2 linked regions of the Homo sapiens genome follow. Each later gene encodes a partner of the first gene's protein in a complex. Each region holds a gene or a part of one and is shown in the gene's direction. Other genes may lie near its edges. The genes, in order: CCT3 and PDCL3.

Region 1 (7,000 bases):
TGAAAGCATTCCCAAGGGGAGAAAAACAACAGAGCTAGCCACATCCTATATCTAAAGTGGCATGCTATGTCTAAAGTGATGGCTAACCATGCTTTAGGGGTGTCATTAAAAACACTGACTCTGGCTGGGCGGAATGGCTCACGCCTCTAATCCCAACACTTTGGGAGGCTGAGGCAGGTGGATCACTTGGGCCCAGGGGTTTGAGACCAGCCCGAGCAACATGGTGAGACCCCATATCTAAAAATAAAATAAAATTAAAATAAAATAAAACACTGACTCTGTGGGTTGTTCATGCCCCTTTTCCCTATTACTCCAACATTTCTCACACTGTCCTCTGATTTGTGCTTGCGTATTTTATGTTCCCTTTCCATTAGACTATTGCAGATATCATCCGAACATGTTTGGGACCCAAGTCCATGATGAAGGTAGGCTTATCTCTTCCTAAAACTCTTAGGCTACAATTTTTTTCTTCCTGTTATCTAGGACACTTTAAATATAACTTTTGCTTTCATCTTAGATGCTTTTGGACCCAATGGGAGGCATTGTGATGACCAATGATGGCAATGCCATTCTTCGAGAGGTGTGTTTTGTTTTTGGTTTTGTTTTTTTGCTTTCTGACAGTTCTGTAAACATAAAGGACCTGTTAAGATACAGGCTCTGATTAGTTTTTTAGGGCTGCTATAACAGATTACCAGAAACTGGTTGGCTTCAACAACAGAAATTTATTATCTTATAGAATGAAGCTAGAAGTCTGAAATAAAGGCGTCAGTAGGGCCATGCTCCTTCTGAAGTCTCTAGGGAAGAACTCCGCTTCTCCCTTCTGATGGTTGCTGGCTTTCTTTGGCATGAACTTGGTCTCTGCCTTGGTCTTCATGTTATTCCCCTTGTGTGTCTCTTACACAAGGACACCGGTGATTGGTCTTCGAGCCCACCCTAATTCAGAATGACCTTATCTAACTTGGTTACATCTGCAAAAACCCTATTTTAAAATAAAGTAAAATTCACAGGTTCTGGGAGTTATGACTTCAACATATCTTTTTTTTTTTTTTTTTTGAGACGGAGTCTCGCTCTTGTCACCCAGGCTGGAGTACAGTGATGTGATCTCGGCTCACTGCAGCCTCCGCCTCATGGGTTCAAGCAATTCTTCTGCCTCAGCCTCCTGATTAGCTGGAATTACAAGCGCATGCCACCACACCCGGCTTAATTTTTGTACTTTTAGTAGAGACAGGGTTTCCCCATGTTGGCCAGGCTGGTCTCGAACTCCTGACCTCAGGCGATCCACCTGCCTCCGCCTCCCAAAGTGCTGAGATTACAGATGTGAGCCACCATGCCCAGCTGGCTTCAACGTATCTTACTGAAGAACACAATTCAGCCACAATAGTGCTTCCAGTAAATAAGCTAAAAGATATCGTTCTGTCCTCTGGCAGCTTTAATAGTTGAGTTCATGTAATACACTTTTTCCCAAAAAGGATTTGGAAAGTGGTTTACTTAAGCTATTTGGGGTGCCAATTTTAATCTTTCAAGATATGGTAAAACATTAAAGGGAAAGTAAGTACGTATAGAAGCAAGAAGCCCAAGAGTTAGGGCCAAGCTTCATGAGTTCAGAGGTCTTTGAATAGTGTGAATTCACTAGTGATCTACCTTTTTAGATTCAAGTCCAGCATCCAGCGGCCAAGTCCATGATCGAAATTAGCCGGACCCAGGATGAAGAGGTTGGAGATGGGACCACATCAGTAATTATTCTTGGTAAGAGGAGAATAAGAGGTTGATAAGGAAAAATTAGAAGTAACACCTGTGTCATATTTTAAGAAGGAAATTCTGTTACAGATCCACTAATTACAGATATTTAAATAGCTTATTGGTTATTTTCTATGTATTCTCTCCAGTTGGGTATAAAACATTTATATGAATAGGGTGAGCTATGCAAATCTGGCTGATAAACTAATAGTTAATTCTCTTTATTCACTGTAAGTTATAATATTCTTTTTTTTTTTTTTTTTTGAGACAGAGTCTCACTCTGTCACCATGCTGGAGTGTGGTGGTGCGATCTTGGCTCACTGCAACCTCTGCCTCCCAGGTTCAAGCGATTCTCCTGCCTCAGCCTCCCAAGTAGCTGGGACTATAGTCACGTGCCACCACGCCCAGCTAATTTTTGTATTTTTAGTAGAGACAGGGTTTCACCATGTTGGCCAGATGGTCTCGATCTCTTAACCTCGTGATCCGCCCTCCTTGGCCTCCCAAAGTGCTGGGATTACAGGCGTGAGCCACCACGCCTATAAAGTCACCACAAACACTGAATTGGCAAATAATAAATCATTGCTTCTATAGGAAATACAGGGTTAGATACCTATAAGCCTCTGGTCACACTTTCATCAACTGATAAATATATACCTTATTGTATGTGTTTGTCTTCAAGACACCCATTTAATATATATAGTTGATTTATTAGCATTGAACTCATAGCCCATAGCAATATAACTCATGCCTGGACAAAGCTCACCTAACGTATTTTCTCTGTAAGGCACATCACAGCCTTCTTGCACATAGAAGCATTAGCTAGCACTTAAGCACTACACTTGTGAGCCATTATAAATACCGAAATCATCAAGAAAAATGTGAAAAACATAACCTTAAATATACTGCATAAAGGACACTTTTTTTTACAGTGTGAGAGCTAAAGGCCTTGTTTAACCTCACCTAGGAATGTCATTGGGTGACTCAAATTTTTTGCCATTCTGTGAATTTCCATGAATGACTATGAAAGTGTCATGAATGTTGATTTTGGGGTTACAAATAATAAGAAATGAAATCTTTAGGATAATGACCCTGGGCTATGTAAGTTTAAAGACTAATCTTTCTACTTCCTATAGGATCATAAAGAATTATTTTTCAAATCTTGGCCTATTGCCTTTATTGTGTAAATGTCAAGATGATAGTAAAATTTTTATACTAGAAACACTGGTTTTAAAAAATCTGATTGCAACCAAGTGTGGTGGCTGACACCTGTAATCCCAGCACTTTGGGAGGCCAAGGTGGGCAGATCACGAGGTCAGGAGTTCGAGACCAGCCTGGGCAACATGGAGAGACCGCGTCACTGTAAAAAATAAAAATCGGCTGGATGTGGTGGCACACACCTGTAGTCCCAGCTACTGGGGAGGCTGAGGTCGGTGAGGCAGGAGGTTGAGGCTGCAGTGAGCCGTGTTTGTGCCACTGCACTCCAACCTGGGCAACAAAGCAAGACCATGTCTCTTTTTTTTTTTGAGATGGAGTCTCACTCTTGTTGCCCAGGCTGGAGTGCAATGGCACAATCTCGGCTCGCCGCAACCTCCCCCTCTCGGGTTCGAGCGATTCTCCTGCCTTAGCCTTCCAAGTAGCTGGGATTACAGGCATGGGCCACCATGCCTGGCTAATTTGTATTTTTAGTAGAGACGGCGTTTCTTCATGTTGGTCAGGCTGGTGTCGAACTCCCGACCTCAGGTGATCTGCCCGCCTCTGCCTCCCAAAGTGCTGGGATAATAGGTGTAAGCCACCACGCCTGGCCTGAGAGGGACTATTTTAAAATAAGGGATGCTAATTTTATTTATTTATTTATTTATTTATTTATGTTTTTGAGACAGAGTCTTGCTCTGTCGCCCAGGCTGCAGTGCATTGGCGCAATCTCAGTTCACTGCAACCTCCACCTCCCAGGTTCAAGTGATTCTCCTGCCTCAGCTTCCCTAGTAGCTGGGATTACAGGCATGCGCCACCACGCCTGGCTGATTTTTGTGTTTTTAGTAGAGACAGGGTTTCACCATGTTGGCCAGACTGATCTCGAACTCCTGAGCTCAGGTGATCTGACAACCTCGGCCTTCCAAAGTACTGGGATTACAGGTGTGAGCCACTGCGCCCAGCCAAGGGATGCTAATTTATAGTGTTGGCCCACATACCTAAAAATAAAGTTCTTAATCAAAATTATTATTATTTATTTTTCGTAGAGATGGGGTCTCATGTTGCCCAGGCTTGCCTCAAACTCCTGGGCTCAAGCAATCTCCTGCCTCAGCCTCCCAAAGTGTTTTTCTTTTTGAGATGGAGTCTTGCTGTGTCACCCAGGCTAGAGTACAGTTGTGCAATCTCAGCTCACTGCAGCCTCTGATCCCGGGTTCAAGCGATTCTCCTGCCTCAGCCTCCTGAGTAGATGGGATTACAGATGCCCACCACCGCGCCCGGCTAATTTTTATATTTTTAATAGTGACGGGATTTCACCATATTGGCCAGGCTGGTCTTGAACTCCTGACCTCATGATCCACCTGCCTCAGCCTCCCAAAGTGCTGGGATTACAGGCTGTGAGCCACCGTGCCTGGCTAAGCCTAGCTAATTTTTCAAATTATATTTATTTATTTATTTATCTTTGAGACAGAGTCGCCCAGGCTGGAGTGCAGTGGCACAGTCTTGGCTCACTGCAGCCTCCACCCCTGGGGTTCAAGTGATTCTCCTGTCTCAGCCTTTCTGTTAGCTGGGATTACAGGTGCCCGCCACTGTGCCTGGCTAATTTTTAGTAGAGATGGGGTTTCACCATGTTGGCCAGGCTGGTCTCACCACGCCTGGCCTTATTTATTTATTTTTATTTTTAAATTTTATTTATTTATTTTTGTGTGACAGAGTCTCACTCTGTAGCCCAAGCTAAAGTGCAGTGGCATCATCTTGGCTCACTGCAACCTCTGCCTCCTGGGCTCGTGATTCTCATGCCTCAGCCTCCTGAGTAGCTGGGATTATAGGCGCATGCCACCAAGCCCAGCTAATTTTTGTATTTTTAGTAGAGGTGTGGTTTCACCATGTTGGCCAGGCTGGTGTCAAACTCTATCAACCTCAGGTCATCCACCCACCTCAGCCTCCCAAAGTGCTGGGATTACAGGCGTGAGCCATAGCGCCTGGCCCTATTGTACTGCATTTTAAGAATGGTGAGTTGAATAAAAATGTCCTTGAGAGTCACAGTCAACTAGTCCATCTTTAGATCCAGTTCTTTTGAGGATTCAGAACATAGCCAGTTATGGACTTTTAGGGAAAACCTGGAAGGATGAAAGAGGAGGGAGGAAAGATTTCATACTCTTTTTTATTTTTTATTTTTTGTAATAGAACATGAGCTTTACATATCAGAGAAAATTTTCTAGCTGATAATTTCAGTTGAATCATCTAGAGATAGTGGGTAGAATAAGTATCCATGAGTCTAAGTATCTTAGATGTAGATGGATTTAAGAATGTGAAAAAGAACACTTGACCAGCCCTAAAGAAATCTTCTGTTACAGTTCTAATAATTTCTTAATAGGGTATATCCTTTTCTAAGTTATCTTACTCAGGCTTTTGCTTTTTTTTTTTTCGAGACAGAGTTTCATACTGTCGCCCAGGCTGGAGTGCACTGGCGCGATCTTGGCTCACTGCAGCCTCTGCCTCCCGGGTTCCAGCAATTCTCCTGCCTCAGCCTCCCAAGTAGCTGGGGTTACAGGCACCCGCCACCATGCCCAGCTAATTTTTGTATTTTTAGTAGAGACGGGGTTTCACCATGTTGGTCAGGCTGGTCTCAAACTCCTGACTTCAGGTGATCCTCCCACCTCAGCCTCCCAAAGTGCTGGGATTACAGACGTGAGCCACCATGCCCAGCCACTCAGCCATCTTTTAAAATGCAATAATATGCTGCTTAATGATGGGGATATGGGCTGGGCGCGGTGGCTTACGCCTGTAATCCCAGCACTTTGGGAGGCCAAGGTGGGCAGATCACGAGGTCTGGAATTCGAGACCATCCTGACCAACATGGTGAAACCCTGTCTTTGCTAAAAATACAAAAAATGAGCTGGGCATGGTGGCGCGTGCCTGTAGTCCCAGCTACTCGGGAGGCTGAGTCAGGAGTATCACTTGAACCTGAGAGGTGGAGGTTGCAGTGAGCCCAGATCACACCACTGCACTCCAGCCTGGCAACAGAGCAAGATTCCGTCTCAAAAAAAAAAAAAAAAAAAAAGATGGGGATACGTTCTGAGACAAATGCGTTATTAGGCAGTCTCATTACTATGCAGACTTCATGGAGTGTACTTTACAAACCTGGGTGGTACGGCCTACTATACACTTAGGCTGTATGGTATAGCCTATTGCTTCTAGGCCACAAAGCTGTATAACATGTTACTGTACTGAATACAGTTATAATACAGTGGTAAGTATTTGTATAATAAGCATAGCTAAACATAGAAAAGGTACAGTAAAAATATGATATTATAATCTTATGGGACCACTGTCATATATGTGGTCCATTGTTGGCTGAAACATTAAATGGTACGTGACTGTATTTTTTGATTATTTTTCTTTCAATATACATGATTGACACTTTGGAATTGAAACAAAATATATTGAATTCAAACACTGGAGCACATACTAATGAATAACATGTACATTTTTTTTTTTTATTTTTATTTTTATTGATCATTCTTGGGTGTTTCTCGCAGAGGGGGATTTGGCAGGGTCATAGGACAATAGTGGAGGGAAGGTCAGCAGATAAACAAATGAACAAAGGTCTCTGGTTTTCCTGGGCAGAGGACCCTGCTGCCTTCCGCAGTGTTTGTGTCCCTGGGTACTTAAGATTAGGGAGTGGTGATGACTCTTAACGAGCATGCTGCCTTCAAGCATCTGTTTAACAAAGCACATCTTGCACCGCCCTTAATCCATTTAACCCTGAGTGGACACAGCACATGTTTCAGAGAGCACAGGGTTGGGGGTAAGGTCACAGATCAACAGGATCCCAAGGCAGAAGAATTTTTCTTAGTACAGAACAAAATGAAAAGTCTCCCATGTCTACTTCTCTCTACACAGACACGGCAACCATCCGATTTCTCAATCTTTTCCCCACCTTTCCCGCCTTTCTATTCCACAAAACCGCCATTGTCATCATGGCCCGTTCTCAATGAGCTGTTGGGTAGACCTCCCAGACAGGGTCGTGGCCGGGCAGAGGGGCTCCTCACTTCCCAGTAGGGGCAGCCGG
Region 2 (7,226 bases), on another chromosome or scaffold:
CCTTGGCCTCCCAAAGTGTTGGGATTACAGGCATGAGCCACTGCGCCCGGCTGACATAAATGTATTTTATTTCACCTTTTATTTTACACAAAAGGCAGCGTGCTTATATACATTATTTCTATACAAAAAAACTAAGTAGTAGAATCATTGTTTTAATTTGATTTCTTTTAGACTTTTAGTAATCAAAGTTTTTTTCCATTTTTAGGTTATAAAGAAATTATGCCATGTGTTCTCCTAGTACTTTTAGTTTTTACTTTTTATTCTGATATACACTGTGAAGTATGTATCCAATTTTATCTATTTCCAAATGGTTATCCAGTTGTCCGAACACCATTTATTTAAAGTCCATCCCAGCAGATTGAGATACCGTCTCGTCTAAGCATACACTAATGTTTATATGTACTGGGCTCTATTTCTGGGCTTGTTCTGAACTTGCTGTGCTGCTCTCTTGATCTCTTTGTCTATTTATGTACTAACACCACATTGTTTTAAGGTTTAGTAGGGCTAGCTCTCCCTTCTGCCTTGTGCTATTCTTGATAAAAATTTTGGAGTCAAGCTGCCTAGCCTCAAAAAATAATTTGTTGGATTTTTGACATCGTGTTAAATTTTACATATTGACTTGGAGAAAATTGATATCTCTATGATGTTGAGTCATACTATCCAAAAATAAAGGATGTTTGTCCATTTGTTCTAGTCTACTTTTGTATCTTCAGAAAAGTTTTTAAATTTAACTAATGCAGGTTTTGCCTACTTCTTTGTTTCCAAGAGCTTTTTCTTTTCTGTTGTTATTGTAATTGGAGTCCATTTTGTCTTGTAGTTTGTTATTGTAAACACGGATGAAGACTATTTTTGTGTTAATTTTATATCCTGCTCCTATACTGAATTATCATATTGTTAGTATGAATTTAAGACTCGGTTCCGCTGAGTTTTCCAGGATGCTATATCATCCACAAATAGAAATAGTTTATTTTTTCTAATTCGTATATCTCTGATCTTTTCTCATAAGCTGTAATTATTTTCTCCACAGCCAAGAAGGATGGAAAGATGAAAGAAGTCCCTGAGGGAGGTGAGAGGATCTGGAGCACAGGTGGAAAGAATAACAAAAGAATAATTTTGACAAAAGCAAGAGGGATGGGGCTGGGCGTGGTGGCTCACGCCTGTAATCCCAGCACTTTGGGAGGCTGAGGCTGGCAGATCACGAGGTCAGGAAATCAAGACCATCCTGGCTAACACAGTGAAACCCTGCCTCTACTAAAAATACAAAAAATTAGCCGGGCGTGGTGGCAGGCGCCTGTAGTCCCAGCTACTCGGGAGGCTGAGGCAGGAGAATCATTTGAACCCGGGAGGCGGAGCTTGCAGTGAGCCGAGACTGCGCCACTGCACTCCAGCCTGGGTGACAGAGCGAGACTCTGTCTCGGAAAAAAAAAAAAAAAAAAAAAAAAAGAAAGCCAATCACTGGGATGACAAGTATTCCCAAGGAAGAAGCCTTTAATTGGGTGCTGCAGCCGAGGAGACAAGGAGACGAGACAGGAGATCAGTCTCAAATCCATCTCCCCGACTGACTAAAACTAGGGGTTTATATAGCAGGGAAGAAATGTAACATGGTGTAAGAAAACAAGAAGAGGGAAGGGCAAGGATGCATCTGGTGAGGTCATCTGTTGAGTTTCAGTTCTTTGATACTTTTTCTGAGAGGCCTGAAGGTCCTTTCCTAAGGAAGAAACTCAGATTAAACAGATACAAGTTTCAAGCTTTAACAGCAGAAGGGTCAATGTCTATGTTTATCCAAAAACAACTGTCTGTGGGACTATTGGGCCAGATTTCATAACTACTGTCTTTCCCAATAATCTATATTATTGTTAAAACAAAACTTTAAGAATGCTTTTGTTCTTGGCTGGGCGTGGTAGCTCACACCTGTAATCCCAGCACTCTGGCTCACGCCTGTAATCCCAGCACTTTGGGATGAGGAGCTCAGGAGTTCGAGACCAGCCTGACCAAAATGGCGAAACCCTGTCTCTACTAAAAATACAAAACTTAGCCCGGCGTGGTGGTGCATGCCTGTAATCCCACGTACTTGGGAGGCTGAGGCAGGAGAATCACTTGAACCCAGGAGGGGGAGGCTGCAGTGAGCTGAGATCTTGCCATTGCACTCCAGGGTGGGGAACAAAGAGAGACTCTCAAAAAAACAAAACAAGGCCAGGTGCGGTGGCTCACACCTTTAATCCCAGCACTTTGGGAGGCCAAGGCAGGTGGATCACCTGAGGTCAGGAGTTCGAGACCAGCCTGGCTAACACAGTGAAACCCCGTCTCTACTACAAATACAAAAAAAAAAAATTAGCCAGGCGTGGTGGCGCGCACCTGTAATCCCAGCTATTCGGAAGCTGAGGCAGGAGAATCGCTTGAACCCAGGAGGTGGAAATTGCAGTGAGCCGAGATCACGCCATTGCACTCCAGCTTGGGCAACAAGAGTGAAACTCCATCTCAAAAAAAAGAAAGAAAAAAGAAAGCTTTCAGGACACCAGGCCATTTCCTGGGTCTGTTGTCTTAGGTCTGTTTGGTAAATATTCTGTGACTAAGCATGCGTAACCTTCTGGGAATACAACCCAGTAGGTCTCAGCCTCCTTTTCCCCATCCCCTATTCAGGATGGATTGGCTTTGGTTAGAATGCCTCTGACCGGATCATGTGGGGAAGAGCAACTGTAGAATAGCTGAGTCCTGGAAAACAGGCCTCAGGGAACAGCAAAGGCTGGGGATGAGGAAAGGACAAAACACCACCTGCTCTGTTGCTGTGCAGGACTGAGCAAGAAGCACAGGATCAAACTCAAAGTTAGTTCCAGTCCTGATTTTGGTGGTAAGACCCAAGGAAAATTCATTAACAAACATTGTGCTGCCAGATACATTAATAAATCCCTAAAAGGGCCTGTAATTCAGTTGAAATGAGTGAGAAAAATCTTAAGGATCCTTATAAATTAAATAAAAACTCCTTGCTCTCAAGCAATCATTTGATTCACTCTATATCAACGACTGTGCACTTTAGCATCACCTGAGGATCTTTAAGAAAGTATCTGTGCTAGGCCTCATTTCCAAGGATTTAATTTGTCTGGGGATGGAGCCCCAGGACATTCCTAGTTTTTGAGGGCTTCCAGGTGATTCTAATGCATAGCCACGGTTGGAAGCCCTGCGCCTATCTCACAGGTGTGTGGGTCTCTACTCTCTGTGTCCGCTTAGTTGCCAGGAGGCAGCAAGTTAGCCCACGTGTGCAAGATGCTTCCTTCCATACCAGGTAGGAATATTGCTCTCTTAAACTTGGAGTGTGCCTGGGCAGAAGCTCTGGAGCCCAATACCTGCATTTTACAAGTCAGATTGCTGCTTTTTGCTCAGTGCCTGTGTGCCTGCATACATGGGTCTCCTGATACTCAGGCACGGCAGATGACTTTCACCTTTGTTTTAGTGTTTTGCTCACTGCTGCATCTGCAGAGCCTAGAATGGTGCCTGGTACACAGCAGGCTCTCAATGTCTTATTAATGAGTTGCCTTTTCCAAGGCTGAAGTGATCGTGGGTGAATTCCAGAAGACCCTGCATCATTTTTATTTATTTATTTATTTAAGACGGAGTCTCGCTCTGTAACCCAGGCTGGAGTGCAGTGGAGAGATCTCAGCTCACTGCAAGCTCCGCCTCCCCCGTTCAAGCAATTCTTCTGCCTCAGCCTCCAGAGTAGCTGGGATTACAGGCAACCACCACTACGCCCGGCTAATTTTTTTGTATTTTTAGTAGAGACGGGGTTTCACCATGTTGGCCAGGCTGATCTCGAACTCCTGACCTCAAGTGATCCGCCCGCCTCGGCCTGGGATCACAGGCGTGTGCCACCGCGCCCGGCCTAGAGGCAATTTTCTATTTCTGACTTGTTAGGCTAGTCAGAGCGAGACGTCTTTACAGGTTTGGGCCGGCAGCTGGAAAAGGCACACGGCCCCGGGCTCCTCCTCCACCCAGCCCCACCCCTCCTCCGCTGAAGACCAGCCCTAATAAGGCAGCCACCAGAATTAGAACCAGGTCAAGTGCACTCCGAGCAGGACAGTAGGCAGATCCTATCTGGCGCATGCGAACGCTTCTGTGCCAGTTCCTTGAAGAGCAGGCGCAGACTCAAGGCTGTTGCTTCCGCCCTTACTCCCCGCCGCTCGTCCCTGGGCGGGGCGAAGGCTGGGCTGGGGGAAGAGGCGTGGCGGCGCTGTGCGCGTGCACAAAAGAGAGCTGAGGGGCGGGGGCGCTGCGGCACAGCTGGTTTGAGCAACTGAACTGGAAACAAGATGCAGGTGAGCTAGGACGGGTCTCGGGTCTGGGGGCTGCGGCCCGTTCCTTTGTCTCGTTAGGCCCGGGCGGGCAGTGGACGCCCGCCCTGGGGGAAGCTCCGGCGCCGCAGGCACGAGGGAGGCCCGGCGCGTCCAGGCCCTGCGCAGGCGCAGTGCGGGAGGCGGGCGTGGTCCCACCAGGACCCACGGCCTGGGCGTCCCCGCCTCGGTGTGCCGGGTCCCCCAAACCTCGTCCTCCGGGACTATGTCTTCTCGCGGTCTCTACCCACCCGGGCCTGTGAAGGTCTTGCCGGATCCCGCCTAACAAAAGTTACCTCCTCTCCTGAACTCCCCTAAGGCACACCTGGGCAGAGGTGTTAGGAAGCGGAGGGTCCGGCCTGGGGTCTTCCGCACGTAAAGCAGCGCCACAGCCGGTGTTCCTGGCTCCACTGAGAGCCAGGTGAGGGCTTAGTTACACCCTCTTCCCCCGAGCCCTGGGATCCGCTTGGGGCGTGTTCCCTATCTGACCGCTCGGGTTCCAGAGCTCCCCGCGAGGGTCCCTCTGTTTCGTCCTTTTTTTTTTTTTTATTAAAATAGGTAAAATAAATTATTTTTCTGTAGCTGCAATTTACTAGCGGAATTTGGTTAAAGCCTAAGGAGAATGAATGAAAACACCATGGAAATGGGCACTATTGTGGGTGAAAACCTATGCCAACTAAATTTTGTCACTGTCCAAAGATCCCGCAGTGGTCAGAAATTCTAATCTCTGCTTAGTGGCAGATGGAGAGGAGAGGGTGCGGGTTTTGCTGGGGAGGGAGGCATTAGGGGCTGGAGGGGAGGGCGTGTCTGCCAGGAGCCAGACACTGTTTTTTTTTTTTTTGAGACCGGGTCTTGCTCTGTTGCCCAGGCTGGAGTGCAGTGGCTCTGTCACAGCTCACTGCAACCTCGACCTCCCGGGGCTAAGCCATCCTCCCTTGTCAGCCTCCGGAGTAGCTGGGACCACAGGCGTGCACCCACCACTCTGGGCTAATTTTTTGTGCAGATGGGGTCTCCCTATGTTGCCCAGCCTCAGCCTCCCAAAGTGTTGGGATTACAGGATGAGCCACCGCACCTGGCCTAGACACTCTTAAATGGTGAAGTGGTAGCTTGAGGGCTGCCCTGGCCTCCTTTGCATTCCCTGTCCTTCAGGTCCCTTGAGGCCTTCCCTGACCACCCTGTAGAAAGGATTCTGCTCTTTTTGTTTGTTTGTTTGTTTGTTTCTTTTTGAGACAGAGTCTTGCTCTGTCGCCCAGGCTGGAGTGCAGTGGCGCGACCTCGGCTCACTGCAAGCTCCGCCTCTCCAGTTCACGCCATTCTCCTGCCTCAGCCTCCTGAGTAGCTGGGACTACAGGCGCCCGTCACCACTCCCGGGTAATTTTTTGTATTTTTAGTAGAGACAAGGTTTCACCATGTTAGCCAGAATTGTCTCGATCTCCTGACCTGGTGATCTGCCCGCCTAGGCCTTCCAAAGTGCTGGGATTATCGGCATGAGCCACCGCGCCCGGCCTCATTTTTCTTTTGATGTATCTCAGAACTGTTACACAGGGTTGGGGTTGGAGACCGATTATCCCGGTGCCCTTTTCACAGTGCTCCTGATTTCATATTCCAAAGCAAGCCTGAGCTCCATTAGCAGTGTTCTTGCCACACCATGCAAACCGGTGCTTGGGCAGCTGGGTTCTAGATCTAAGAGCCACTTTTACATCAGTCTTTGTGACAATGATCCTTTGTGATTTTGATGCTGGCTGATTTGGCCAGCCGTTCTAGCATGGCAGTGCCTCTAAATGCCGTGCCTCTCCTAGGCTTGTGAGGATTCAGGGACAAGGTACAAGAAAAAGGGCTTAGAGTGCCCTGTATTTTATGAGCTACTCTGAGACGTCTCAGCTTTTCCTCTCAGGTTTGGCCATTAGAGAATTCTGTCAGCCAAGCCTCATCTGCAGCCTGAGATCCTCAAAATGTCACAGTCTCTTTGCTCTTGGGCAGTATGCATGCCGCAGGCCGCTCTGCCTGGAAGATTATTTTCTTGATTACGGGCGTGCACCTGGCTAATTTTTGTGTTTTTAGTGGAGATGGGGTTTCACTATACTGGCCAGTCTGGTCTTTTAACTCCTGACCTCAGATGCTCCACCTGCCTTGGCCTCCCAAAGAGCTGGAATTACAGGCGTGAGCCACTCCACCCAGCCTGGAAGATTTTTTTTTTTTTTTTTGAGACAGAGTCTAGCTCTGTCGCCCAGGCTGGAGTGCAGCGGCTCGATCTCGGCTCACTGCAAGCTCCACCTCCCGGGTTCCTGCCACTCTCCTGCCTCAGCCTCCCGAGTAGCTGGGACTACAGGCGCCCGCCACCACGCCCGGCTAATTTTTTGTGTTTTTAGTAAAGACGGGGTTTCATCATGTTAGCCAGGATGCTCTCGATCTCCTGACCTTGTGATCCACCCACCTCTGCCTCCCAAAGTGCTGGGATTACAGGCGTGAGCCACCGTGCCCAGCCTGGAAGATTATTTGTAAGCCCCCAGACTCCTATCACAGATTGCTTTCCACCCTCAGACGGAATGTCACCTCCTCTGTAGGGAACATCCCTATCTACTCTGTGGAATGTGGGTCCTGGGTAATTCTCTAAAATGGCAGCCTGTTTGTCATTGCACTTGCCACAATTTTATCTCTCTATGTATAGTTTGTATATATACTTGTTTGTTGCCTGTCTCTTCCTCTTGTCTGTAACACAGGTGACTCTCGCATTCACCACTCTTCCCCATTGCCTACAATAATTTACATGTGGTAGATACTTCAGTTTTATCTGTTGAATGAATCACTCAGTCATTATTATTATTATTATTTTGAGACTGTGTCTTGCTCTGTCGCCCAGGCTGGAGTGCAGTGGCACGATCTCGGCTCACTGCAAGCTCCGCC

Evidence for each region.
Region 2: the proteins of CCT3 (region 1) and PDCL3 are in contact, whole or in part, in a cryo-EM structure (PDB 8I6J), measured with the Homo sapiens proteins. Residues at the interface, in NP_005989.3 of Homo sapiens: Met47 (codon at 420), Pro53 (codon at 530), Met54 (codon at 533), Val58 (codon at 545), Met59 (codon at 548), Thr60 (codon at 551), Asn61 (codon at 554), Asp62 (codon at 557), Ala65 (codon at 566), Arg68 (codon at 575), Glu69 (codon at 578), Arg167, Ile258, Glu261, Phe264, Leu268, Gln269, Glu271, Ser297, Asp298, Leu299, His302, Ser380, Glu382, Ile383, Arg389; in NP_076970.1 of Homo sapiens: Glu66, Ala70, Met73, Tyr74, Arg75, Arg77, Arg78, Trp82, Leu182, Pro212, Lys213, Ile216, Glu217, Asp218, Val219, Arg226, Leu229, Met230.

The regions. Positions count from the first base shown.
Region 1 is NC_000001.11:156,328,293-156,335,292, reverse strand, and holds part of CCT3 (T-complex protein 1 subunit gamma), read left to right. Parts: intron 1-374; coding exon 375-425; intron 426-517; coding exon 518-580; intron 581-1,649; coding exon 1,650-1,746; intron 1,747-7,000. UniProt on the Homo sapiens protein: Component of the chaperonin-containing T-complex (TRiC), a molecular chaperone complex that assists the folding of actin, tubulin and other proteins upon ATP hydrolysis.
Region 2 is NC_000002.12:100,558,767-100,565,992, forward strand, and holds the start of PDCL3 (phosducin-like protein 3), read left to right. Parts: upstream 1-4,226; 5' UTR 4,227-4,301; coding exon 4,302-4,307; intron 4,308-4,538; exon of another isoform or gene 4,539-4,743; intron 4,744-7,226. UniProt on the Homo sapiens protein: Acts as a chaperone for the angiogenic VEGF receptor KDR/VEGFR2, increasing its abundance by inhibiting its ubiquitination and degradation.